Linked DNA regions of Homo sapiens. The protein of the gene in region 7 purifies or fractionates together with the protein of the main gene of each other region. This does not show direct contact. Each region holds a gene or a part of one and is shown on either strand. Other genes may lie near its edges. The genes, in order: PAPOLB, AKAP1, PAPOLA, HMGCL, MTARC2, ANGEL1 and MTHFD1L.

Region 1 (4,174 bases), on a different chromosome or scaffold from region 7:
AAAAATAAAATTCACCAATTTGAAAAATCTAAAATTAGTTCTACTTTCTAATAAAAAATATAAAGTGCCTCATCAGTATAAGGAATTCTGATACCAGTTTGTATTGCATATTTTCCCAACAATGCATCAAGCATAAATCCAGTCCAGATGTCAGTCACGGGTACAAACATAGCTGAAAGGTTTTTTCATTTTAAGGGCAGTAGTCCTTTGAAATAGTTAATGTAACTGTTGCTGATACATTAATAACAGTACCTCTAGCTGTCACATACTAATGTGGACTTCTGATCAAGACTGGCTCAGTAAAGGAAGTTACCAAATGAGCCTCAATCTATTTCAAGTCATATCTAGTCCCGTACCCCTCATTCTCCTTCCTTAGTATTTGAAGACAACAGGTTCAGTTGGCAGATATTGTTCATGGACCCTTGAGGTTGTTTTTAACCATTCAACCTGTTTTACTGAATTCTTGATAACAGGAATTGGATTTGCAGGGAGAACAGGGATACCGGAAAGATCTATACTGATGTTCCCTGAGAGGCCAATAGAGAAGATGCTGTCTGAATTTTTCTAATGGAGTTGTACTTGTCTTTGTATTGAGTTTCTCCTCTTCCGTTTTGGTTTTCTTGGTCCTTTCTTCTTTATGAGGCAAGAATATCCTCTAGACTCCAACTATAGGATTAGATATGTTTGTTGCTGAGTTTCCTGAAGGTCTGGATGGCTTATGAGACATGTTGAAGAAACAACTCTGGCGACCATGGCCTTTGGTGATGGAGAAATGGCAGGCTGAGAGACAGCGTGAGGAATACTTTCGTTTAATGCAACCCCTGAACTTTCATTGGTATTCACCTGTTGCAAGGAAAATTCAGTAGCCTGTATGTTAGCCACAGATGCTGTCATTACAGCCAAGGCAGGACTGTTTCTACCCTGAGAACTGCTAATCAATGGGCCTGTCTTCATAGTGCTAGTAGATGAAGGCACAGACATGCTGTTTTCACAGCCTGCAGACAAGTCAAAGCTGCTGTCGTTCAAATCTGTCAATCTTCTACCTTCTGTTGAGTGTGCTTTCTTGTCCTGAAGCACATGATGAGGCAGCAGCTGGTGAAGTTCCTTTCTTCTTAAATGCATTGCAGTAATTTTCATACCCATCTCAAACATCTTACTATTCACTGCTTGCCTATAAACAGTATCTGTGAAAGACTGGATATCATAGGTGAGATCAATGCTGAGAATTTCAGAATTATCTGGCTTTTTTAGCCCTAACCCAATCACCCACATTGTACGAAATTCTTCCATATCAGGATTTTCTTTGGGTGCTGGAAATGACTGTGGATTCACATGTGCCAGTGTAATAAATTCATTCTTCTCCAAGCTCCCAACCAGGATTCGGATCTTTGATTCCACCAAGCCCACCCATTCTAAATGTTGTTTTTCTGTTGATGCACTTGCCAGAAGTACAATATAATGCTTGTACTTTTGAAAGAAGCTTGGAGCTTCAAAGAGTTTGGACCACTCTGCCTTACTTAGCAAAATCTCGTGTGTGATAGCAAGCCCCTGTTTAAACTCCTCAATCATGACCATCCTGGTTGAAATAGACACGTTGTATGTGGAGTTCTGCTGTGGGTATGCTGGTGTGATGATAGGCATAAGATGGTACCTATCACTGGGATTTACTCTTGGGTCCCATACAGGCAAATTAAGATTCCGTTCTTCAGGCTCCTTCAGTAACACTGGGTTTGGCCATTCCCATTCTGAAAATACCAAGAAGAATTTCCGTACAAGAGTTGACGCTACTGCATTTGGATAAAGCTGACAAGTTCTTGCTACTAGCATGGCCCAGGAAACACCTCCGAGGAAACCTAATATATTGGAATAGATATTGTGGCACTTGGCCCACAGTTTGATGGCTCTCAGAGTCAGCCTGAAGTTGTCAATGTTTGGCACTAGATGTAAAATTTCATCGGTTACCCGGCAACCATTAAGGCTTCTTATGCATCTAATGTCTAAATTTTTAAGTAGACTGTCATCTCTTAAGTCCAAATCTTCTGGAATAGTCTGTAGTGCTAATCTTGCAAATAAAATATCAATCTCTATCCCATCAAAACACAGTTTGATAACTGGCACAAATGCCTCCTCGACAGCCCTTAAATCTTTCACTTCCTCCTGTAGTTTCAGTTTAGCATAGAATGAGGTGAAAAAGTCGCTTCGATCCACATGACTTGGTGCAACGCACAAGGCGTCAATATCTGCGCCTTTCGTATGTACTCCTAATCTGTAAGAGCCAAACGTAAAAATCTTTCCTCCAACGTTTTCAATTACAGACTGGGGAAGACTCTTGCTTTCACTGATTTCGCGTATCCATTCCTTTACCAGATTATTTAATTTTTCCAAAACTAAAATCCTGCGCTGCAGTTCCTCTTCCTCTTCGAAGACCCCGAAGGGCCTGAGGGTTTCTATTAGCCTCTGGGTGAGGAGGCAGTCCGTCTCCTTGGGGACCGCTAGACTGATAGGCGAGGAGACGCCGTAGCGATTCGGCGGCGGCGCCGGCTGCGGTGGTCCCTGGGTTGTCACCGGAAACGGCATCATCTTTCAGCGCCCGCCCCGCCAGGGCACGTCCCCCACCACCGCGACCTTCGCGGCCGCCGCCCGGGTCATGATCCGCTGAGGCGGAAGGGCAGGGCTTCTAGCTGCCCTGGTCCGACCCCACTCCCACTCCCGCTGCGCGCCCGCCGCTTCAGGAGCTTCTCCTCCTTCCCCTCAGCCCCAACATGGCGCCAGACCCCTCAGCGGCTGCGTTCCAGAACCTACCGTACACGCGCGGGCGCCTGCGCACCCGCCGCCAGCGCGAGGGCTCACGGGAGCCACAGCGTTCTGGGCTGGGGCTCCTACCGCTGCGCGGGGGGCTATACATGGGGGTGGGCAGGATTCACGTTGTTGATGACCGGCCAAACTCAACCCTTTATTGCCACTATTTTACATATTTGCCCAACTTTACCCATCTAATTCTTTGCTCTCCAAGTCCCTTGACATCGCAGATGTGCATCCTTTTTGGGGGCACCCTCAGCACTCTTCACCCTAGCGTGCACCCTTTGGAAGTCCAAAGACCCCTTCGTGGTGGGAACCCGCGGTGGAAAGCAGCTTCTGTCTTGTTTCTTGGGCCGTTGCTGGACATTGGTTTAGCTGGGGCAGCATTTCGAGGTCGACATTTGTGTTCTGGCCATGCTTTAAGGGCGCGATACTGCTGTCCTCTGGTTCCCGTTGAGAATTCCGCAGCTAGGTGAACTACTGCTCGTCTGTCTTTTCTTATGGCAGCTATAAAAGTGTCTGTCCCTAGTGCCCTGTGATCCCACCACTGTGTGTCCAGGCATAGATTTCTCTTTAATAATCTTACCCAGGCTGGGCGCAGTGGCTCACGCCTGTAATCCCAGCACTATGGGAGGCCGAGGCGGGCAGATCACCTGAGGTCAGGAGTTGGAGACCAGCCTCAACATGGAGAAACCCCGTCACTACTAAAAATACAAAATTAGCCGGGCGTGGTGGTGCATGCCTGTAATCCCAGCTACTCGGGAGGCTGAGGCAGGAGAATTGCTTGAACCTGAGAGGCAGAGGTTGCGGTGAGCCAAGATCACACCATTGCACTCCAGCCTGGGCAACAAGAGTGAAACTCTGTCTCAAAAAAAAAAATAAAATTAAAAATAAAAATAAAAAATAAAAAATATAATCTTACCCAGGATACACTATGATTCCCGAATCAGAAGTCATGCTTTTTATGATCTCCAGAAGCTTCTTGGGCACTTCCTGGGAATATGTTCTCCCACTTGTCTCCTGATTCTCTTCATCTAGACACGTTGTCAACCTTCTCACTCTGTCCTCCATGTCTCTTAAGCCGTGTGTCTTTCTGGGTGATGCCAGATTACCTCCAAGTCCTCTCTTCAGTTGTATTTAGTCTGCTGTTTAAGCATCATTGAAATATCCACTTAAATACTTATATTTCACTATTTTGTTCTTTTCCAAGCTTCTCTGCCTTTTAGATGGCATTCTGTTCTTTCATGTTTTTCCCCCTACCTTTTATTTCTTTAAACGTGTTAAACATACTTATTTAGTACTCTATAACTAATTATTCTAATTCCGAATGCTCTTGAGAAACTGTATAGTTTGTTGTTATCCAAGAACTCAGAGT
Region 2 (3,500 bases), on a different chromosome or scaffold from region 7:
AGAGAAGAGAGGGCGCAGGCACTCATGTGCACTTGGCCTTCTTAGCCTGAGGTCTGGGGAGTTTCTTGTTTGGGGTAGGTTTGGGGGAAAGTGGCAAGAAGTCCGGATCACCCAGTAGCACGCTCACCCAGGATGTCATCGGCAGAGAAGGCAGTGCCAGTGAAGGCAATGGGGGAGCGTAGATATTGGTGAGGTTCAGCTCTTTGAACTTCTTCCCAATCAAGTTCAGCGCTTTGTCTACATGATGTTGAGAGCCTAAATAGCGGATGGGGGCAGGACATACAATCACTGTAAGAGGAAACTCACACCCACACTCACAAAAACACAGCCACAGACCCCACTCCACTGGACTTTGCATAGAGTTCAAGTGCATCTTTGAGGTAACAAAACACTTAAGCTCTGCTTTAGGAAGAAAGGCATCTAAGCCTTTCAAATGATACCTCTGCCATTATGATCCATGCTTTCAATGCAACAGAAGAGGCAGGCAGCTGTGAAAATGCCAAGGGGGAATTGCACACAGGGCACTTCTGCTTTGAGAGAAGCCTTTATGGGGTGGTGGGCACTATGAACCCAGGACCCAGGCCCCGCCCAACCAAGCACCCACACTTCTCCTGGCCAAAGATCAGAGTAGGGAGGGACCTGAGTCTCCCGCAGGCACCTGAAATGGGGAAAAGGCTGCAGGGAAGATACCTAATGCTCCCTTCCCTGGGATGAGAAGCAGGGTTTCCTATTCCAAAAAGATAGCAATTGAAACTCAGATGCTATTCACTTCTATTTAATATTTCAGGTAAGAGGCAATACAAGCAGCAGATGTTACTGACCTTCTATGTGGCAGATCTGGACGCTCTGGGTGTAAGGCAGGGTTGAAATGTAGATCTTGGCACCAGATGTTTGCTTCAGAAAACTCACATAGCGCCCCTGCTTGCCAATTAGCCGACCGACTAAGTGCTTCCAGAAAGACAAAAAGAGATGAGAGGGTTAAAGGGAAACCAATTCCCTGGACACCCAAAGACCTACTTCTGTTTTACACAAGATCATGCTCAAACATATTAGCTGTTACCATGTCAGCATTTATTTTCCAGGACTATTCTAAGCACTTACATTTACTCATAGTACCTGTGAAACACAGATAACTTTATCACCATTCTGTATATGGGGAAACAAGCCCAGAGAGGCTAAGTAACTACCTTAAGGTCACACAGCTGCTAACCAGGAAGTCGAACCAGGCAGTCTGGCTCCAGGACCAAGCAGTTCCCATTTCATCCCAACAATGTGGCCCAGACCCGGAAAGCTGCAAAGGCAGCAGCATCTTCTCCTCTAAAAGCCATGCTGAGAAGTTTCACCAGCACACAGTTTCTCGATTTCTCGTGCCCCTCTCCCTCAAGTCTACTCAGATCCAAAGATAAAGGGGCTCGATTTGAAAATGAAGGTCTAAGAACCCTGGGCTCCCGCTGCCAAGTGACAGCAGGCTGAAGCCTGCAGAGCAGGAGGCATGCAGAAGTGCCCAGTGCGCCAGAGTTCAAGGCAGATAGAAGCAGCCAAACTTAGCCCTTACGTAAGATGGGCTCCCACACAACCGCCAACGACCCCCTCCCGGAGGAGCTACTGGGGACATGGTCCATCCTCAGGCACAGCCTTTCTCTTCATGCCCTTTGTAACCACTGAAGGAAAAGCAGGCAGGACGGATAACAGGGCCCCCCAGGGAGGAAACCACCAAGAGACCTCGCAACCCAGGGTCAAAACAGCCACTCTGACCCAGAGTTCAGACCAAGCCAAGTCTCCACCTGAGCACAGAGCCCAGGGCCCTGGGAGAATGCGGTCTGACAAATTATTTCTGAGCCCCAGAGATAAACATCAAGATCAAGCTAATATGTTGTAAGTTCTAATAGCAAGAAGCTCGAAACCACTTAAGCACTCAGGAATGGGGGACTGATGAAGTAAACTGACATCCACACAGTGAATAATGCAGTTACAGTTACATTTTCAAAGAATAACACACGAAAATTAAATTGTTAAATATTTAAAGTATTAATTAAAGCGACATAATCTCAGTTTTGTTTAAAAACCACAGGGTGCAAGATGAGAAGGAAATAAAAGTCTTTCACAGTCACTCTCAAGGGTAGGATTAGAGCTGATTTTTATTTTCTGCATGTATTTCTATACTTTTCAAGTTCTCTAAAATATGGATTTATGCTTTGCTCAATTATAAAATACACTTGGAGCACTTGAGCAGAGCTCAGTGAAGGGATTCTGGCTGGCCCCCACGGCCTTGGTGTTTTTTTTCCAAATAGATCTGAGCCCCAGAATATGCAAGAACCACCCCCAAGGGAGACACACAGGCCTGCGAGTTTGAGAAGTACAAGAATAAGATGCTCCTGGAGGCAGCTGGAGGAATTCCATGTTGCAGGAAGCTCTCTGAGCCTTGGCAAAGTGTAGCGTGTCCTTTCCCTGCGGCCTTTGGCTGACCCAGGGCTCCTTCTGGTTTACTGTCCCTCTCCCAGCCCCCTCCCTCCCTGAGGTCTAATGGCCCTGGCCCCAGGGAGCTTTGGGCTTACCACAGAACCAGCCTGGGGGACTCCGCCCCTACCTTTGGCACCTCGATCTCCCAGATGATGAGGTCGACCTTCTTAGGGTTGGAGCCTGCCTGGGCATTTTGGAAGCTCTCAGTCTTCTTGAGACTGCAACAGCTATCCACGGAATCCATGCTGTTCCTGTCAGAACCTGCAGGGGAAGAAGCAGCAGGCACGCACACACACAGACCCCACTCAGAGCAGCCAGTAACCAAGAACTTCCCAAACTCACATTCCCAGGAGGCCCTGCCCCACACCCGCTCCTCAAGCTTGGCAGGTGACTGTCAACTTACAGTCTAGAAGGCTCAGAACAACCCCAATGAAAGGAGAACTGGGGGTGTCGATACACCTAATTTTAGCCTGTCACTTACAGTCCCACTTGCTTAATTGGCAGCCGCACCCAGCCACAGCTGCTGGAGCAGAGACACAAGTGGTGAACTTGGAAGAGACAGACTGCGCCCAGGGAAGGGGAGCCCAGAGGGCGGGGGAGGAGACACGCTTGAGGTCCACATGGTCCTGAGAGCCAGACCGATGGACCACAAACACCTTGACACCCTTCCAACTATCCTACCCCCTCAGACCAAGGGTCAGTCTCCTGTCCCCAGGGCCCAGTCCCAGGGTCATAGGTACTGGCCTTCAGCCCAGCAGAGCTAGACAAAGTCCTCACTGGCCTGCCTGAGGGCCCCATTCTTATACCTAGCGGGGACCCGCTCGTTCCTCTGCCATATGTGGACTAAAAAAGGAGAGTCTCCTTTCCCTTTGCTTAGGCCTGATTCATGCAACTCTGAACACTCTTCTGGCTCAAATACTCCCTTGGTCAAAAGACTGAGCCAAAGCTCATGCCCAAGAAAACCCAATGGGAACAGACTCTGCTCCCGACCTGGGCTGTTCCACTCTCACTCAAGAGCGTGCCAAAGGGACCGTCACAAA
Region 3 (3,500 bases), on a different chromosome or scaffold from region 7:
TTAATTTTAGAGATGGTGTCTTGCTCTGTTGCCCAGGCTGATCTAAACTCTTGAGCTCAGGCGATCCTCCCTTATAGCTCAGATTACAGGCATGGACCATGACACCCAGTTTTTTTTTTAACTATTTGTATATTATGTCCATAACACATTCATAGAAACACAATCAAGCAGAATTGAGACCGTAAAATTTTACCTTATATTTTATAAACTTGTTTCAACATGTTAAATTATTTAAAGTAAATATTAATAATCTTGCAAAAGTTGAAAGTCAACTAATTCTACCGTTCACCATTAAATTAGAATAGTTATAGCAAGGAGGCTAAAATAACCCCCTATAATGGCAGCAAGGGGCACCAAACAAATCTTCAAATTAAAACAATAATTAGCTTTTGGTTATTAGCTAAAAACTCAGTTTATGCTAATTAAAACACTATTTTGTGAAATAAACAAAGATTTTTAAAATAGCTTTTTAGTGCAATACTCTGTGGCTAGAAATAGTAAATCCAAAGCAAATATTGCTTTATTTATTGCTCCAGGAAGCTGCTAGGGCGGCCAAGTTATTAAACATCAACTCAATTTTCCTAAAAGCACTTTTTTCTCATCTACCTTTTGTCAGAAAGTACAGTATTTATGAGGTTGAAATGTACCAAATTCCTAAATATGCATAAAAGACAATGCTAAATAAAATCAGAAATACAAAGATGCTTAAGGTAGTCTCTGTTTTCAATGACAATCTCAAATTTAGTCTGGGATTCAGATCCTTAAACAACAAGTGCAAAGTAGAAGTTTGGGAAAAAAACCATTAAAGAAACAAAGATAAAATCATGACTATGCCAGAAGGTGTACACAGTAAATGATCGGAAAGGAGAGGCGTAATCTAGGCAGACGACTAACACACAAAAGGACAGAACATCATATTTCCATTGGTGTTTTCCTTAAATAGTTAATGTTTAAGTACTTTGCATCTCAATTTAATTTTTTTTAATAGAGTCAGGATCTCACTATGTTGCCCAGGCTGGTGTCGAACGCCTGGGCTCAAGCAATCCTCCCACCTTGACCTCCCAAAGTGCTGGGATTACGGGCATGAGCCACCACAGCCCGCCTGTGTCTCAATTTATACAAAACTCATCAGGCACTACTGATTAATCCCCACCTAGTGATATTAGGCATTTGGAACAAGTTGTGGCCCATGATATTAACAGAGTCAACTGCCCCAATTTATAGCTACTACTTAACAGAAAACACTTTATTATTTGCATGATAGAGTTAAAACTGAAAGCCAAACTTGCTAAATATTCTTCTTTGAAACCAATCAGATAAACTACAGTTAACTTATTTAAAGTAACAATTCATCACAGTAGAATTTGCTGTTTAAAGGTCTTAACCTTAATGTGCTCATTCAAAGGACATGAACAGAAAAGATACAAGGGATCTCTCTAAAGTATCTCAATGTGCATTAAATATTAATTATTAGCCAAAATAATACAATCTCCTTTTTCACAAGGTATACGGCATGATAGTAGCTTACAGGCAAGATTATCGCCAAAATAATCTATTTGCTAAGAAATTAAAACGATGGTTAACTGGCCCACCGTAAGGTGTTCTGTGTAAGTGGTACTAAAAATATTTAGATCCCACTATATTCTTAAAAACGTACTGCAGGTGGGCCATCCAGCCAATATTTAGTAAAGCAGCAGCAGAGGCTCAAAGATGATGTTAATAGTTTGTTTATGCTCAAGGGGAATAAAGTATGTATGATAAAGCCCAAGGCCAAACTGAAAATTCAAGGTTGCTTATGCAGAGAAAGGGTACTTGCTGTTCAATTACTACAATGGCCAAGTTATTTTTCCTCACTTCCAAAGGGTACTTCCAACTGCCCCTTTGCGCACAAGCGCACGCGCGCGTGTGTGTTGTGTCCCTCTCTCTCATATGGCTAGGAGAAACTTAAAAAAAAAAAAAAAAGCCAAATTGTACACTGCTACATCAACTTGCCAAGTACAACTTGAAAATGAAAGAAATGTAAATTTAATAAAGTATGAAACAGGACCTGAAAAAGTACGAAAGAGTGTGAAAATGTATCAGAAAATAGTCAAGATTATAGTAAGTCATAGTATTACAGACACTAATTTCAGGAAATGTAATTTAAATGTTTCTAATGATCAAAATGACAAACACTATTCTTGATCAACCTCAAAATTATAAAAACTGCCGTAAAATCCAAGAATCCAATTTCTGGACAAAATATAGAGGGAATAAAAATTTGAAAAATAATTCTGTAACAAAAGAGGAAGAAAGAAATCTAACAGAATGCCTTTATTTTTTCTTTCCCAAATCCTTAGGTTTCCACAAATGAGATTGCTATACAGTTCAGCAGGCCTACATACAATCCAAAGATTAAAAAAAAAAAAAAAAAAAAGCAACTCCCACAAAAGGTACTGGCCACAACAAAGCGGCGTCTAAGTGGCAAATCTGTGCATGGCTTTAAATAAGAATATATATGCAAATAAAGCCACTGAAAGTAGTCGTGTGCCACGTTAACAGAATTCTTCAGTCAATGACAGACCACACATATAACAGTGGTCCCATAACAGCATAATACCGTATTTTTACTATTCCTTTTGTGTTTACATACATTTAGATACACAAATGCTTCCTAATGTGTTACAAGTGCCTACAGTATTCGGTACAGTAACATGCTGCCACAGGTTTATAGCCTAGGAGCAACAGGCCATATCATTGGTGCATAGGCCTAGGTGCATAGCAGGCTATACCATTTAGGTTTGTGTTAAGTACACTGTTCCCACAATAAAATCTGAAAAATAACACATTTTTACAGAATATATCCAATCATTAAGCAATGCACAAGATCTCAGGTTCTATAGTATGTTACATTCTGTGTATACTACAAGTATACACTATATGTTACTTTTGTTTATATACTTTTGTATACATTTTTATTATGTAAATACTTTGAGATTTACATGTTATACACACAAAAAAAATTGAGCTTGAAAATTAATTCTACTTGAAACTATACAGAGATTCCAACTGGCCAGGCATGGTGGCATGAGCCACCTGTAATCTCGGCAATTTGGGAGGCCAAGGTGGGATTGCTTGAGCCCGGGAGTTTGAGAGCAGCCTGGGCAACGTGGCAAAACCCTGTCACAGTAAAAAATACAAAAATTGGCCACGTATGGTGGTGCGTGCCTGTAGTCCCAGATACTTGGGAGGCTGAGGTGGGAGGATCCCTTGAGCCTGGGAGGTCAAGCCTGCAGTGACCCATGATCACACCACTGCATTCCAGCCTGGGCAACAGTGAGTTCCTGTCTCAAAAATAAATAAAGACTCCAACTGAGCTAACCACACATGGTTCCCTACAGTGTCCACAGGAGATGGTATAGTGTACTGGAATGACAATGCAACACAGAATCCAGAGCTGATTTAAGCCCCAATCTACAATTTAGTACCTTTATGACCTTGGTCAGGTATTCTTTTGAGCC
Region 4 (3,500 bases), on a different chromosome or scaffold from region 7:
GAGGCCAGAAGTCCCAAATCAAGGTGTCAGCAGGATTGGTTCCTTCTGAGGCCTCTGGGAGAATCTGTCCTATGCCTCTCTGCTGGGGTCTGGTGGTGGCCAGCAGTCCTTGGCATTGCCTGGCTTGTAGATGCATCTCTCCAGTCTTTGCCTCCGTTTTCCCAGGGCCACCTTTTCTGTGTCTCTGTGTCTTCACTTGGCCATCTTTTGTTTTTGTTTTTTTTAGACAGAGTCTTGCTCTGTCGCCCAGGCTGGAGTACAGTGGCATGATCTCGGCTCACTGCAAGCTCCACCTCCCAGGTTCAAGTGATTCTCCCACCTCAGCCTCCCGAGTAGCTGGGACTACAGGCGTGTGCCACCACGACCGGCTAATTTTTTGTATTTTTAGTAGAGATGGGGTTTCACTGTGTTAGCCAGGATGGTCTCGATCTCCTGACCTCATGATCTGCCCGCCTCGGCCTCCCAAAGTGCTGTGATTACAAGCGTGAGCCACTGCGCCCGGCTGGCCATCTTTTTTTAAGGTCACCAGTCGTATGGGATTAGGGGCCCACCCTATTCCAGTATGGCTTCATCTTAACTAATGATATCTGCAATGACGCTGTTTCCAAATAAGGTCACATTCTGAGGTGCTGGGTTTTAATCCTTCAACATATATTTTTAGGAGGACACAATTCAACCCATAACATTCACATAACATAAAATTTACCTTAAGAGAAATTTTTTGCTACTCTGTGTCAGTGTTCTTTAAAGAGAAAAGTGCTGGCCGGGCATGATGGCTGACACCTGTAATCTCAGCACTTTGGGAGGCTGAGGTGGGTGGATCACAAGGTCAGGAGTTCGAAACCAGCCTGACCAACATGGTGAAACGCTGTCTCTACTAAAAATACAAAAATTAGCCGGGCGTGGTGGTGGGCTCCTGTAATCCCAGCTACTCAGGAGGCTGAGGCAGGAGAATCGCTTGAACCCAGGAGGTGGAGGTTGCAGTGAGCCGAGATCATGCCACTGCACTCCAGCCTGGGCAACAAAGCAAGACTCCATCTCAAACAAAAAAAGAGAAAAGTGCTGAAAGGAGTTCACCTGGATGTTGGCAGGTTGCTGCTGGAGCCAAGGAAGTAGTCATCTTTGGAGCTGCCTCAGAGCTCTTCACCAAGAAGAACATCAATTGTTCCATAGAGGAGAGTTTTCAGAGGTTTGACGCAATCCTGAAGGCAGCGCAGTCAGCCAATATTTCTGTGCGGGGGTGAGTCAGAGCACATTGGTATCCTTTCCTCTGTACCGTTCTGGAATGGGGCTAGACTCTGACTCAAGTGGTCCTCCTGCCACAAACTTCTTATCCTGGGTGGGGGCAGCCTGAGCTCCACACCTAGACATCTTTTCCCAAATAAGTGTGGTCAGAAGAAATCCTAGGAAGTACTTTCTCTCAAACCTGAATTTTGGGTCAGTTTACCAGCTAGCCATGATAGCATGCGCCTGTAGTCCTAGCAACTTGGGAGACTGAGGCAGAGGATGGCTTGAGACCAGGAGTTTGAGGCTGCAGTGAGCCATGATAGCACCACTGCTATCATGCTAAAGGAATCTAGCAGGACAGGACACTAACGGGTTTGTGGAGGTCAGTTGAGTCCTGGCTTTATCACTAGCTCTTCACACATCCCTGGAGAATTACCTAGGCTTCTATGTTTCCAACATCACATCTCTAATATCAGTGGTTCCAGGCATTGTGTGTGTATTATCTATAATAATTGAAACCTCACAATAGCCCAGCAGGGAGTAGGTTATCCTCACTTTATAAATTACAAAACCGAGGCCCAGGAAGGGCGAATACTCTACTGTAAGGTCACACTGCTGTGCAAATTGCAGCCAGAGGCCGGGCATGGTGGCTCACACCTGTAATCCCAGCACTTTGGGAGGACAAGGCAGGTGGATCACCTGAGGTCAAGAGTTCAAGACCAGCCTGGCCGACATGGTGAAACCCCATCTCTACTAAAAATACAAAAATTAGCTGGGCGTGGTAGTGGATAGAAACCCCGTCTTTACTAAAAATACAAAAATTAGCTGTAATTCCATCTACTTGGGAGGCTGAGGCAGGAGAATCACTTGAATCTGGGAGGCGGAGGTTGTGGTGAGCCGAGATCACACCACTGTACTCCGGCCTGGGTGACAGAGCAAAACTCCATCTCAAAAAAAAAAAAAAAAAAAAAAAAACATTGCAGCCAGAATGATCGTTGAAAAGTGCACATCTGGGCTGAACATGGTGGCTCATGCCTGTAATCCCAGCACTTTGGGAGGCCGAGGCGGGCAGATCACCTGAGGTAAGGAGTTTGAAACCAGCCTGGCCAACATGGGGAAACCCCATCTCTACTAAAAATACAAAAATTAGCCGGGCGTAGTGGCATGCACCTGTAATCCCAGCTACTCAGGAGGCTGAGGCGGGAGAATCACTTGAACCCAGGAGGCAGAGGTTGCAGTGAGCCAAGATCACGCCACTGCACTCCAGCCTAGGTGACAGAGTGAGACTCTGTCTCAAAAACAAAAACCAAAAAAACCCCACAAAAGTGCACATCTGATCACATCCCTCCTGGTTAAAAAGCTTTCAGTGACTAATCAAGTGCAGACTTTTTAATGAGGTTTACAAACCCTGCATGATTTGGTCCCGGCTCTTTTCTGTAGCCGTACCGTTCAAGTTCCCTTCTGGCCCCTGCTTCCTCTTCATGGTACACTCCAGCCCAACTGGAACTTCTTTCTGTTTGTCACATGCCTCCACTCTTGCCTCTGGGCCTTTGCACGTGCTCTCTCTAGACTCAGAACAACCTTCCTTGGGAGGCCAAGGTGGGCAGGTTGCTTCAGCCCAGGAGTTTGTGACTGGCTTGGGCCTGGGCAACATGGTGAAACCCCAGCTCTACAAAAAAAAAGCCAGGTGTGGTTGCATGTGCCTGTAGTCCCAGCTACTCAGGAGGCTAAGGTGGGAAGATCACCTGAGCCTGGGAGGTCCAAGCTGAAGTGAGCCAAAATCATGCCACTGCACACCAGCATGGGTGAAAGAGTAAGACTCTGTCTCCAAAAAATAAAGAACACTTCCTCCACATCATGCTTCTCGGGGATAACTCCTGCTCATCCTTCAGGTCTTCTTGTGGGAGTCAGTTCCTCTGAGAAGCTGCTCCAGTCCTTCAGCTGGAGTTAGTGCCCTTCTCTGGGACCCCATGGTGTCGGGACATCCTCTAAATGTAGCACTTAGCTGCTTGTTAAATTCCCTCCCTGCCCCACCCCACTAGACCGTGCACTCCATGAGGGCAAAGCCCACATCTCTCCCAGTCCCTGGGGTGCTCCACTCTCCCAGCTTGGGGCCTAGCCACAGTGGGCACTCAGTCACTGACGGGCAGGTGGATGAATGGGGAAGCAGGTGCTCCAGTAACATTGGCCCAACTCCCAGATCTGTGTCTTTCTAAGCATCTCTCTTACCTTTTTCTTGCTCAGCAGTGGTTGGAGAATAAGTGGGAGCATCA
Region 5 (3,500 bases), on a different chromosome or scaffold from region 7:
ATTCAAAACACTAACAGTGAAAGTTTAAAAAAAATAAGTGGCCGGGCGTGGTGGCTCATGCCTGTAATCCCTGCACTTTGGGAAGCCGAGGCGGGTGGATCACAAGGTCAGGAGATCGAGACCATGGTAGCCAACATGGTGAAATCCCGTCTCTGCTAAAAATACAAAAATTAGCTGGGCGTGGTGGCGTGCGCCTGTAGTCCCAGCTACTCAGGAGGCTGAGGCAGGAGAATCACTTGAACCCAGGAGGCAGAGGTTACAGCGAGTTGAGATCGCGCCACTGCACTCCAGCCCGGGTGACAGAGCGAGACTCCATCTCAAAAATAATAATAATAATAAAATAAAATAAGTGTAGAATAATATAAAATTCATAACACTTCAGCCTTGTCCAAATGTCTGTGAAGGGACTTTTCTTTTTACTAACTTGAGGTTGTTGGTTTATGTTATTTGATTCTGGGCTCTGGTGGGCTGGCTGTGGTAATCACTCTGTCGCTTACCATCTGTTAGGGGCTAAATGTTTGTGTCTCCCCAGAATTCCTTTGTTGACACCCTCACCCCCAATGTGGGGCCTATGGGAGGTAATTAGGGTTAGATGAGGTGGAGCCCTCATGCTGGGATTGGCACCCTTATAAGAGGAAGAAACACAAGATTGCTTTCTCTCTTCATGCAGGCACCAGGGAAGGTCATGTGAGGACATAACGAGAAGTGGCCATCTACAGCCCTGAAAAGGGACCTCACCAATCTACCAGCACCTCGATCTTAGACTTCCCATCCTCCCAAACTATGAGAAATAAATGTCAGTTGTTTAAGCCACCCAGACTATGGTATTTTGTCACAGCAGCTGGCACTAGCTAAACACACTATCTATGTTATTTCTTCAGTTTTTAGCAGTTCCCTTGGCAACGAATCCATTAAAAATAGCTTATAAATACAGGCTGAACTAGTTACAGCATGTCTAACCAGCTAGAGAGGGCAGTGCGCTGACTACACCTCTGCATCAATCCAAATGCACAGCTCTCAATCATTTTCACCAAACTGCCAGGGTTCCAGGCTCTCTATTCCCACCTCATCCAGATCTACAATTCATGCATGGAACAGAATTACATAAGAAGAGGCTTCAGGCTGAGCACGGTGGCTCATGCCTGCAATCCCAGAAGTCTGGGAGGCCAAGGCAGGTGGATCACCTGAGGTCAGGAGTTCGAAACCAGCCTGGCCAACATGGTGAAACCCCATTTCTACTAAAAATACAAAATTAGCTGGGCGTCATGGCACATGCCTCTAATCCCAGCTACTCAGGAGGCTGGGGCAGGAGAATCGCTTGAACCTGGGAGGTGGAGGTTGCAGTGAGCCAAGATCGTGCCATTGCACTCCAGGCTGGGCAACAAGAGCAAAACTCCGTCTCAAAAAATAAATAAATAAAAAAGAATAGGCTGCAATTGCTGTCTTTTTCAGACCCAGGCAACTCACCTGCAAGGTCTTCCTCTTTCCCTCTTTCCATCCAGGAAGGTGAGTGTCCCCCTAGATTTCTGCCTATTTAGCTGGTAAAGAGCCTTGGGGGAAAAACTTGCTCACTGTTGGCAACACAGTGAGTCTACAGGGCAACACCTATATTACTCATGTGACACATGTCAGCTACGTATTTACCCATCACCTTCACATGTCTTCCAATTAAGCCGAGATGGCTACACACTTCCTCTTCAATGAACTGATGGGCTCAAAACCTGTCATTTATGGAAAAGCTTTTCTTCTCCCTACACAAACACGTTAAAGGCAAAAGCCTTAGGAGGGAAGTGGGTTCAAATCCCAGCTCTGTGTTTTCGTGGCAGTGATCTAAGACGTGGTTTCCTCGTTTGTAAAGTGGAATTAATGACCCCCTCATGGGCTTGCTAAGATAATTACCTGAAATACTGAATTCAGTGAATTATTGCTTCAGACTTTTGAAAATTGGGAACCATGAGTTGTGGATTTCAGCTTAGACGCTTTGCTTGAAAAAGCGTAAGATGAGAGTTCACGGAGTAATCTGAGGCTCCCCTCTGAGCCCTGGGACAACACCAACTTCCACACACTTAACAAGCTCAGTTGGTGACAAGGGATCCAGTTCATCCCATGACAAGCATCTAAGTCTTCTTAATGTGGAAGGACAAGACCCCAGCAAACCACGGAACTTGACAACCCAACAGAAGTCCCATAGGCCAAAAGGAAGCCAAGGCCTGAGGTGTGTCTTTGGCCAGAAGTGGAAATCCCTTACACCCAAGGAATATGTCTTCATCTCAACCACACACTTCAGAGGCCGCAGAGTCAACTTGAAAAGCTCTGGAAGCTCCAGCATCCTTCTCACCCAGCCCTGAGATACAGCTGCTAAAGTCTCCACTAACTCCCTTGTCTGCCTGGTTGGAGAGTTGACAATTCTGAATGAAGATTTGAATGAAAGGAGAAAAGCCCTAAAGATGAGCACATTGTACCACCTTTATACTTGTAGTAATCCTGCTTTTAATTTTCTGCATGTTTTACGCTTTGACATCTTGGAGCCTTGTTGACACTGAAGAAACTGCTTCTTCCAGGGCTGACCAATTCCTAGAAATAATAGACTGATGACCTGCAAGTGTGCCTGTAATAGGAACACCAACCCATCCAGAGTCTGCACTCCCAGTCACCTCCTTTATTTGGTGCTTACATGCCGGGCCACTAGTCCCATGCCCTAGTCAACCCTAGAGCCAAGTACCAGACAACCTGTGACCCAGAGCCTGCTGAAATTGTTCAAACTAGCCAGCCCTAAGCCTGCCGCCCCTGCCTTGCTTCTCCTTTCCTGTGGAAACCACAATAAAAGCCCTTGCCCACATGTTCCCCCTGCTCCCTCTGCCTCCTGACCCACCCTGGTACTCCCCCACTTGGCCTTGCGTGGCGTAGCGTGCCTCCAGTTTCTAGAGAATCTGTTGGTATAACATCTTCTTTTTTCAGGACAGTCATTTCTATGTCTGCGTGTCTAACCATACCTGATTAAAACAAATCCTAGGTACCCTGAAAACAATACCCTGCATCATCCACTCATGCCCAATCCCAACTCAAACTGCACTTCTCTTAAATGTTTCCTTTACCAATGTCATCCTCTACTGTAGAAACTATAGCAAGACAGAATGCAAGGAGGAGCCTGAAGAGAAACCAAGCCTGTTGCAGTTCTGTGGATGCCCCCAAGCGGAACACCTGCAGTTGTGGAGTTTGTTTGAGGAAGGCTGCTTGCTAGGCAAAACCAGCTGGTCCATGTCTGGAGCCCTGAAGATCAGGCAGTTATTCTCATAAATGATGGAGATGAGCACGAGGCGAGGCTCCTGTCGGGCAGTGACCATGTGTCCATCTTCCTTAATCACCAGCCAAAACCTGCAGAGAAACAAACCAGGGCACACTCAGAAAATCCTCTTCCACCTCCCAACAGCTTCCCTCCAGCTTTCTACTTCCTCAGAACTCTCCACCCACCCCGTCTTGGGACCTAACAATCATTTTCC
Region 6 (4,088 bases), on a different chromosome or scaffold from region 7:
ACTGACCTTGAACAATGCCCCTAGTCAGATGAAGTTACTCTTGACTGTAAAATGGGGACAAGAGGCCAGGCGTGGTGGCTCCCAGCACTTTGGGAGGCAGAGACAGAGGCAGCAGGATCACTTGAGGCCAGGAGTTAGAGACCAGCCTGGGCAACATAACGAAACTTCATCTCTACAAAAAATTAAAAATTAGCCAAGTACGGTGGCACATGCCCATGGTCCTAGCTACTTGGGAGGCTGAAATGAGAGGATTGCTTGAGCCCAGGTTGACGCTGCAGTGAGCTATGACTGCCCTTCTGCACTCCCGCCTGGGAGACAAAGTGAGACCTCATCTCAAAAAAAAAAAGAAAAGAAAAGAAAAAAATAAATTTTAAATTTAAAAAAATAGAGACAAGTTTGAACTAGATAATCTCTGAGCTTTTCTAGCTGTATAAATTCCCTAATCTATTAATGTATTCCAAAAGAAAAAGTCCTAAAGTAGACAGTCTCAAAAATCTATACAATTTACATCTTAGCAAGGGCCCTTAAGCCTTTTCTCAAAGCTACTTATTGTAATAAAATCTTCACAAACTTCATTATCTGCTTTCCCATTCCACAACACATCAGAGGCTATAAATTACAAGGTGCCAACAATCGACAGTAAGAGACAGCTGACATCTCTCTGATACTGCAGCCACCAATGACAGCCAACAGGCAAGAAAGAAAGTGGGAAAAACTCTAAAATTAGAGCCCCCAAACTCTGAGCACAGTATTTTGGTGAGAGCAAACAACTCCTACACTCACACACTCAACCATTTATTTACAGCACAGGACGAGTAACATGCACGATGCTGGCCCTCAATCACTAGACTCATTTTATTGGCAATTTTTTTTTAAAGGGAAGAAACCTTAAAAGTGGCTCAAATATTGAAAGACGGTTCAAATATCTTGTTTGGGGTCTATGTATATTTATGTCCTTCTAAACAATGGTTTTAACCACGGTGATTTTGCCCTCGGAAGACATTTAGCAACGTTCAGAGACACTGTTGTTGTCACAACTGCAGCATTGCTACTGGCATCTAGTGGTTAGAGGACAGAGACGCTGCTGAACTTCCAACAATTCACAGGACAGACCCACACCAAATGATCCGGTCCAAAACGTCAACAGTGCTGAGATTGAGAAACCCTGCTCTAAACCTATGTATGGGCTGGGTCGTTGAGCTTTAGCCTCAAGGACTTCCTGATTATCTGCCCCTTGAAATATCCTCTGTGTATACCAGATGGCAGAGGTTCTTTGGTTCATATGCACGAAGTTACTAGCTTTCAATTTTGGTAGATGTCTTTTGGTGGTGGTGGTGGTGGATTTTCAGCAGCAGAATGCTTTTGTTTTTTAAAAATCTTATCTGGAAACCAAATATGCCAAGTAAATATAAGTGGGACTACTGTAATGTGTAGGTGGGGGGGCGGGGGGGGCCCTCCTCTGAGATCCCTAGAACTCTACTGGTCTGGAAACCTCTGGACTAGTATACTGTATCACTAAGGCATTAGAAGAGCTCCAGGAAAAACAGCAACATAGTTAAAAGAATATGTTTAGTTCTCTGGAAACAATTACTTCTGTGGAGTTTCCCACATTCCTCAGAAGTATGGACACACAAGACATTCCTGAATTCACTGAGTGCCTACTGTATACCAAGCAATGTGTTAACACCAGAGATACAGCGAACAAAATGGACGTGGCCCTGCGCTCCTGAAGTTTGCATTCTAATGGCAGATACACAGTAAAATTTAAAATATTTCTATATGAAATATATATTATCAATGACACACACATTGCGTACCAATTGTGTAAAGTTCCACAAAGGAAAACCACAGAATATACAATTGGAGCCCTCATTCCTAAGTACTTCTTGGTCCTGTCCCATAAATTAAAGGCAAAAAGTCTGCGAGTTCCATGGGATCTCAGAAACTGATGGTCGCATAAAACCCTCCGTAATTTCAAAGCCCAGAAATAGAGAATGCAGACAAATTATGAAACAATAACGAAATAAACACCCCCTCTTTGAGGTATCGACTGGGCATTGCCCCCACCCCAGCACATCTCCCTCTAAACCGCCGGGAGTGGGGGCAGGAATGCTCCAAAGCTGAGATCTAAATGTGTCTCTGATTGAACGTCCGTTTTTCAACCAAAGACACCGGTGAGCGAGAGCTGCCAGGTGGCAGTGAAAGGCGAGTGTGAAGTTAACCTGGGGAAGATCGGTGCGTCCAGTACTTCGGCCATAAACCTCCCAGAGCCGACCCGCCTCGCCCGCTGAGAATTTGGGCACTCGCCTAGGTCCGAGCTACTACCCCTTCCCGACCCGCCGGGGTGCTGACTTGGCCGACCCCACAATTTCTCTGCACCCCCAGGGCCAGGAAAGGGCCCTGCCCGTCCACAGCTCCTCTCCACCTTAACCGCGGCCGGACGCCATCTGACAACAGGCGGGAGGAGGGGCCGCCCACGAGGGACGTCGGCCAGGTCCAGGCCTCGTGGGGTCAGGAGGGGCCCGCGGGGCAGGGGCTCAGGACCGCCTCCCTACACCTCGGCACTGCCCGGGGCACGGTAGTCGTGAGGCCCGGCCAACCGCACGCCGCCCCAGGCCCGCGGAGCCCCGCAGAGGCGAGCCCTGGCCGGGCTCCTGTCTGTCGGTACGCCTGGCCGGTACCTGAGAGGGCGCGGAAGAGGCGCGTGGCCGGCAGCAGCAGGTAACACAAGCACGACGCGATCATGGCCGGCCGCCCGCGCCCGCCTCCGCTCCTCACTGCAGCCAGCAGGTCCTCCCTCAGCTCGGCCCCGCCCCCGGCCCGGTCCGGCCCACGTGGTGCCGCCGCCGCGCTTCAACAACAACTTTATTGGGAGCGCAGGTCTACGGGTGCGCACGCAGGAAGTGGGAGGAGCCGGTTCCCATGGCAACTAGCCACCCCTAGCACCCGGCTGCCACCCAGGCGTCCCGAATTAAAATTGAGCGCCTCACTGGAGGCCCCATAGTGTTATTCAAAGGCCACAGTTTATTCCCACTTCTGCAGCTGACTAGGTGTCCACCTTGTTACCACACTATAGCCTCTCCGCCCCTCAGTTTCCTCACCTGTAAAATGAAGAGCTGGACTTTCTCTAAGGCTCCACTGAACCTTGACTTCTAGCCCTTCTCGACCCAGAAAGGAAGCGAGTTATTCCCCCATTTCCCCCGTTTTCCTGCCTCTACTTCCCTGTCTCAGATTCTAGGTCACAAATTGAGTCCTACCTTGCTTCAGGAAGTAAGACTTTGTCTCCTTCCCTACTTTCTAAACGGGCCTTCTTTTCCCTAATCTAGAAAAACAGGGTTTCCCATTGGTAAGGAAGTCAAGAAAGAAAGGAGAGAGGACAAAGAGAGGAGAGAGAGAAGGGAGAGAGGAGAGAGACAGAAGAGAGAAACTTCCACAAGGCCAGGGACCAGTTCTGGCTGGTTGTTTGCTCACTTTGAGGTATCTCTAATACAATCCAAGCACCTATTGTAACCAAGTACCCAGCTTGGAAGTTATATTCTTGTTATATACTTCTATTTCTTTATTTTTGTTCAGTTAACCACTAGGCACCCCCCGACACCCCAGCACCCCCCATACACACTGTTAGCATATCTAATTGTATGTTCGCTTAAAAGTTCCAGAGACTAAATCTTGAAACAATATAGGCATCTGTGGAAATCTCCACCAGGAGATTGATTCAAGGCTACAGTTAATTTATAACTCAGCCCAGCCCGAGATGATGCCAGCCCATTCACCAGATGGGCAGTAACTCAAGACAAGTCATCAGAACTCGTCATGAAGACCTGCACTGCCTCACCCCTTGCATACCCTCCATGCCAAAACTTCTTAAAGCCTCGCATTTTGCTTGGAAATGTGAAGCAGCTCCATTAAAGCAAAAGCCTGGATCGTTTTTCCCCACTGCTAGCTTTGGTTTATAATAAAGTCAGTCTCCTTCTACCATACCACGACCTTGCTCGTTGGTTTTGCAAGCGGCCGAATCTGCATTCGCTAGCACTACTAGCCACCACATAAGCCTTTACTGACTGGTTGAACAAAGCATATGTCACTAA
Region 7 (3,500 bases):
AAGCAAATAAAGTGGGAAGAGGGATGTGAAGACAGGGGATTAGGGGGGTGAAGACAGGGGGCTCACTGTTGGACAAGAAGTGTCGAGACAGGATAAATTCCAGGTCCTGGAATTTAAAGAAGGAATTAGGTAAGGAAGGAAGGGGAGGAAAGTTCCAGAAACACTGGAGACCCACTTTGATAACACTATCAAAGCCTCCTAGAGAGAGAGACAGAGAGCTTCTCAGTCCTCTGAGAATCCACAACATAGTCTGCACCTGTACCTCCTAAATGCCCAGCAGCAGCCACCTTCACCTCCCACCTCTGAGGGAGGTGCCAGCCTGGGGTGAGCAGGCCTAGGTAAAAGTGGTAGAAGGCCTGGCATGGTGGCATGCACCTGTAGTCCCAGCACTTTGAGAGGCCAAGGCGGTAGGACTGCTTGAGACCAGGAGTTTGAGACCAGCCTGGGTAACATAACGAGATCCCATCTCTATAAACAATTTAGCTGGGCGTGATGGCACGTGACTGTAGTCCCAGATACTTGGGAGGCTGAAGCTGGAGGACCGCTTGAGCCCATGAGTTTGAGGCTGTAGTAAGCTATGACTGCACCACTGCACTCCAGCCTGGGTGGCAGAGCAAGACTCAATTTCTTTTTAAAAAAAGAAAAAAAAAAAAAGTCCAGGAGCGGTGGCTCACGCCTGTAATCCCAGCACTTTGGGAAGCTGAGGCGGGTGGATCACAAGGTCAGGAGTTCAAGACCACCGTGGCCAATATGGTGAAACCCCGTCTCTACCAGAAATACAAAAATTAGCTGGGTGTGGTGGCAGGCGCCTATAATCTGAGCTACTCGGGAGAATCTCTTGAACCTGGGAGGCAGAGGTTGCAGTGAGCCGAGATTGTGCCACCGCACTCCAGCCTGGGCAACACAGCAAGACTCCGTCTCAAAAAAAAAAAAAAGTGTTAGGAGCTCAGCTCTTTATGGAACCTTCTGGGATGAGTGACTGCAGAGGCTACCTTCGCCACCACCCTATGATATGTTCTCAGCAGCACATGAGCACTGGGAGCTGGCTTTTCCCCCTCTCACAATAGACCAAAGGCGCAGCCACAGGAGCCCCCAGGCTTCAGTGCTAAGACCACCTTTACATTTTGTTTTCAGTCTCCGACAGGGTCTTGCACTGCACCTAACAAAAATGCGGGGTGAAGAAGTTCCAGCCAATGCCATCAACGGTACACTGCCAAGAGCAGAAAGGCATCGGGAAGCTTTCCCCAGTTTTCAGAGAGACACAGCTGACAAATGGAACCAGAGGCACTGCAGTTCCCAGGCGGGGCTTTAGGGGAGAGAGCTGCTCAGATTCACAACCAGGACCAGTCTTTCTACTGCCAGCTGGGCCGGAACAGATGGACTGGGTGCAGGCAACTGTCTATAACCTGGGAACATTTCAGTTAGTTTTGTTTGGAAACACTTGGGATAAAGCTACTTCATTCCCAGGGAATTAATTGTATTATTGTGCTGAATAAATGTGACCATATGGGAAAGTTTACAAATCACCTTATAAATAAGCACTAAAATCCATCCATCCAATAATGGGTGACTGAGGCCCATATACCGCACTCTTTCCAGCCTGTCGTGACTGTTAATTTGGCTATGCTGGGTTCTTATTTTTGTCTGGGTCCAGGAAAGCACCGGAGTGTGGGACCCAAGCGGTTCATGGTATAAGGATCACTGGAGAGTTTGGTAAAAGTAAAGGTTCCAGGCCAGGTGCAGTGGCTCACACCTATAATCCCAGTACTTCGGGAGGCCAAGGTGAAATGGATCACTTGAGGTCAGGAGTTTGAGACCATCCTGGCCAACATGGTGAAACCCCATCTCTAGTAAAAATACAAAAATTAGCCAGGCATGGTGGTGCACACCTGTAATCCCAGAGCTACTCAGGAGGCTGAGGCAGGAGAATCACTTGAACCCAGGAGGCAGAGGCTGCAGTGAGCCAAAATCATGCCACTGCACTCCAGCTGGGTGACAGAGCGAGACTCTGTCTCAAAAAAAATAACAGTTCCAGCCCTAGAAAGTCTGATTCAACGTGTCTCAGTGGAGCCCAGAAATGTGCATTTTTAACAGAGTCCAGGTAATTCTGAGACACTAAGTGGAAATACGGCCCAGGATTGGTACTGGGCATTTCATTTACTAGCGTGGACAAGTCTCTAAGAGTCTCAGATTCCTCATCTGTAAAACAGGTATACTACAGTGGCTCTTTCCCCTTTTTCTTATAAATGTACGTTTGTTTTTTTCTGTGCCCCAAAGCTACCCTTAAACACTAAAAACATTCTTACTAACAGCAATAATTTTCTCAGAAACATTCATAGTCTTGATCCATTCATAGTTGATGAAAGGAACACTTCTTTTTATTTTTTTGAGACGGAGTCTCACTTTGTTTCCAGGCTGGAGGGCAGTGGCACGATCTCGGCTCACTGCAACCTCCATCTCCCAGGTTCAAGCGATTCTCCTGCCTCAGTCTCCTGAGTAGCTGGGACTACTGGTGCATGCCACCACGTCCCACTAATTTTTGTATTTTTAGTAGAGACAGGATTTCACCAAGTTGGCCAGGGTGGTCTCGATCTCTTGACCTCGTGATCCGCCCACCTAGGCCTCCCAAAGTGCTGGAATTACAGGGGTGAGCCACCTCGCCGGGCTGAAAGGAACACTTCTATAGGTAAGTCGGCAATCGTCAAAAAGTAATTAGACTTTTAAAATAGTTGGGGATGGGGGCTGGGCGCAGTGGCTCATGCCTGTAATCCCAGCACTTTGGGAGGCTGAGGTGAGAGGATCACTTGAGCTCAGGAGTTCAAGGCCAGCCTGGGCAAGATAGCAAGACCTGGTCTCTACCAAAAAAAAAAAAAAAGTTGGGGGGTGGATGTGGATAGAAAAAAAAATACAGGCATACATCATTTTTTGTGCTTTGCTTTACTGCAATTTACAGATACTGTGTTTTTCTACAAATTGAAAGTTTGTGGCAACCTGTGTTTTAAGTCTATGGGAGTCATTTTTCCAATGGCATCTGCTCAATTTGTGTCACATTTTGATAATTCTTACAATATTTCAAACTTTTTCATTTTTAGTATGTTTGTTCTGGTGATGTGTGATTGACGATCTTTGATGTTACTGTTGTAATTGTGTTGGCCAAACCGTGGCCATGATGGTTCATGATGGTGTGTGTTCTCACTGCTTCACTGGACTGGCTGTTCCCCCTTCTCTCTCCCTCTCCTCTGGCTTCCCTATTCCCTGAGAAACAACAATATTGAAATTAGGACAATTAGTAACTACAGTGGCCTCTAAGTGTTCAAGTGAAGAGTTGCAGGTCTCTCACTTTAAATAAAAACCGAGAAATAATTAAACTTAGTGAGGAGGGTGTATTGAAAGCCAAGATAGGTCAAAAGCTAGGCCTCTTGAGCCAAACAGTTAGCCAAGCTGTGAATGCAAAGGAAAAGCTATTGAAGAAATTTAAAAGTGCTACTCCCGTGGATACA

What was found.
Region 1: the proteins of MTHFD1L (region 7) and PAPOLB fractionate together in Homo sapiens (co-fractionation; one large-scale study listed by BioGRID). This does not show direct contact.
Region 2: the proteins of MTHFD1L (region 7) and AKAP1 purify together in Homo sapiens (affinity purification with mass spectrometry; one large-scale study listed by BioGRID and IntAct). This does not show direct contact.
Region 3: the proteins of MTHFD1L (region 7) and PAPOLA fractionate together in Homo sapiens (co-fractionation; one large-scale study listed by BioGRID). This does not show direct contact.
Region 4: the proteins of MTHFD1L (region 7) and HMGCL purify together in Homo sapiens (co-immunoprecipitation; one large-scale study listed by IntAct). This does not show direct contact.
Region 5: the proteins of MTHFD1L (region 7) and MTARC2 purify together in Homo sapiens (affinity purification with mass spectrometry; one large-scale study listed by BioGRID and IntAct). This does not show direct contact.
Region 6: the proteins of MTHFD1L (region 7) and ANGEL1 purify together in Homo sapiens (affinity purification with mass spectrometry; one large-scale study listed by BioGRID and IntAct). This does not show direct contact.

What each region holds. Positions count from the first base shown.
Region 1 is NC_000007.14:4,859,231-4,863,404, forward strand, and holds the start of PAPOLB (poly(A) polymerase beta), read right to left. Parts: upstream 2,801-4,174; 5' UTR 2,581-2,800; coding exon 667-2,580; 3' UTR 1-666.
Region 2 is NC_000017.11:57,109,246-57,112,745, reverse strand, and holds part of AKAP1 (A-kinase anchor protein 1, mitochondrial precursor), read right to left. Parts: intron 2,722-3,500; coding exon 2,588-2,721; intron 949-2,587; coding exon 822-948; intron 256-821; coding exon 128-255; intron 1-127.
Region 3 is NC_000014.9:96,508,882-96,512,381, reverse strand, and holds part of PAPOLA (poly(A) polymerase alpha), read right to left. Parts: intron 1-3,500. UniProt on the Homo sapiens protein: Polymerase that creates the 3'-poly(A) tail of mRNA's. Also required for the endoribonucleolytic cleavage reaction at some polyadenylation sites.
Region 4 is NC_000001.11:23,811,930-23,815,429, reverse strand, and holds part of HMGCL (hydroxymethylglutaryl-CoA lyase, mitochondrial isoform 1 precursor), read left to right. Parts: intron 1-1,091; coding exon 1,092-1,240; intron 1,241-3,500. UniProt on the Homo sapiens protein: Mitochondrial 3-hydroxy-3-methylglutaryl-CoA lyase that catalyzes a cation-dependent cleavage of (S)-3-hydroxy-3-methylglutaryl-CoA into acetyl-CoA and acetoacetate, a key step in ketogenesis. Terminal step in leucine catabolism.
Region 5 is NC_000001.11:220,754,822-220,758,321, reverse strand, and holds part of MTARC2 (mitochondrial amidoxime reducing component 2 isoform a precursor), read right to left. Parts: intron 3,376-3,500; coding exon 3,202-3,375; intron 3,192-3,201; exon of another isoform or gene 3,096-3,191; intron 1-3,095. UniProt on the Homo sapiens protein: Catalyzes the reduction of N-oxygenated molecules, acting as a counterpart of cytochrome P450 and flavin-containing monooxygenases in metabolic cycles.
Region 6 is NC_000014.9:76,810,083-76,814,170, forward strand, and holds the start of ANGEL1 (protein angel homolog 1), read right to left. Parts: upstream 2,801-4,088; 5' UTR 2,746-2,800; coding exon 2,682-2,745; intron 1-2,681.
Region 7 is NC_000006.12:150,872,202-150,875,701, reverse strand, and holds part of MTHFD1L (monofunctional C1-tetrahydrofolate synthase, mitochondrial isoform 2 precursor), read right to left. Parts: intron 1-3,500. UniProt on the Homo sapiens protein: May provide the missing metabolic reaction required to link the mitochondria and the cytoplasm in the mammalian model of one-carbon folate metabolism complementing thus the enzymatic activities of MTHFD2.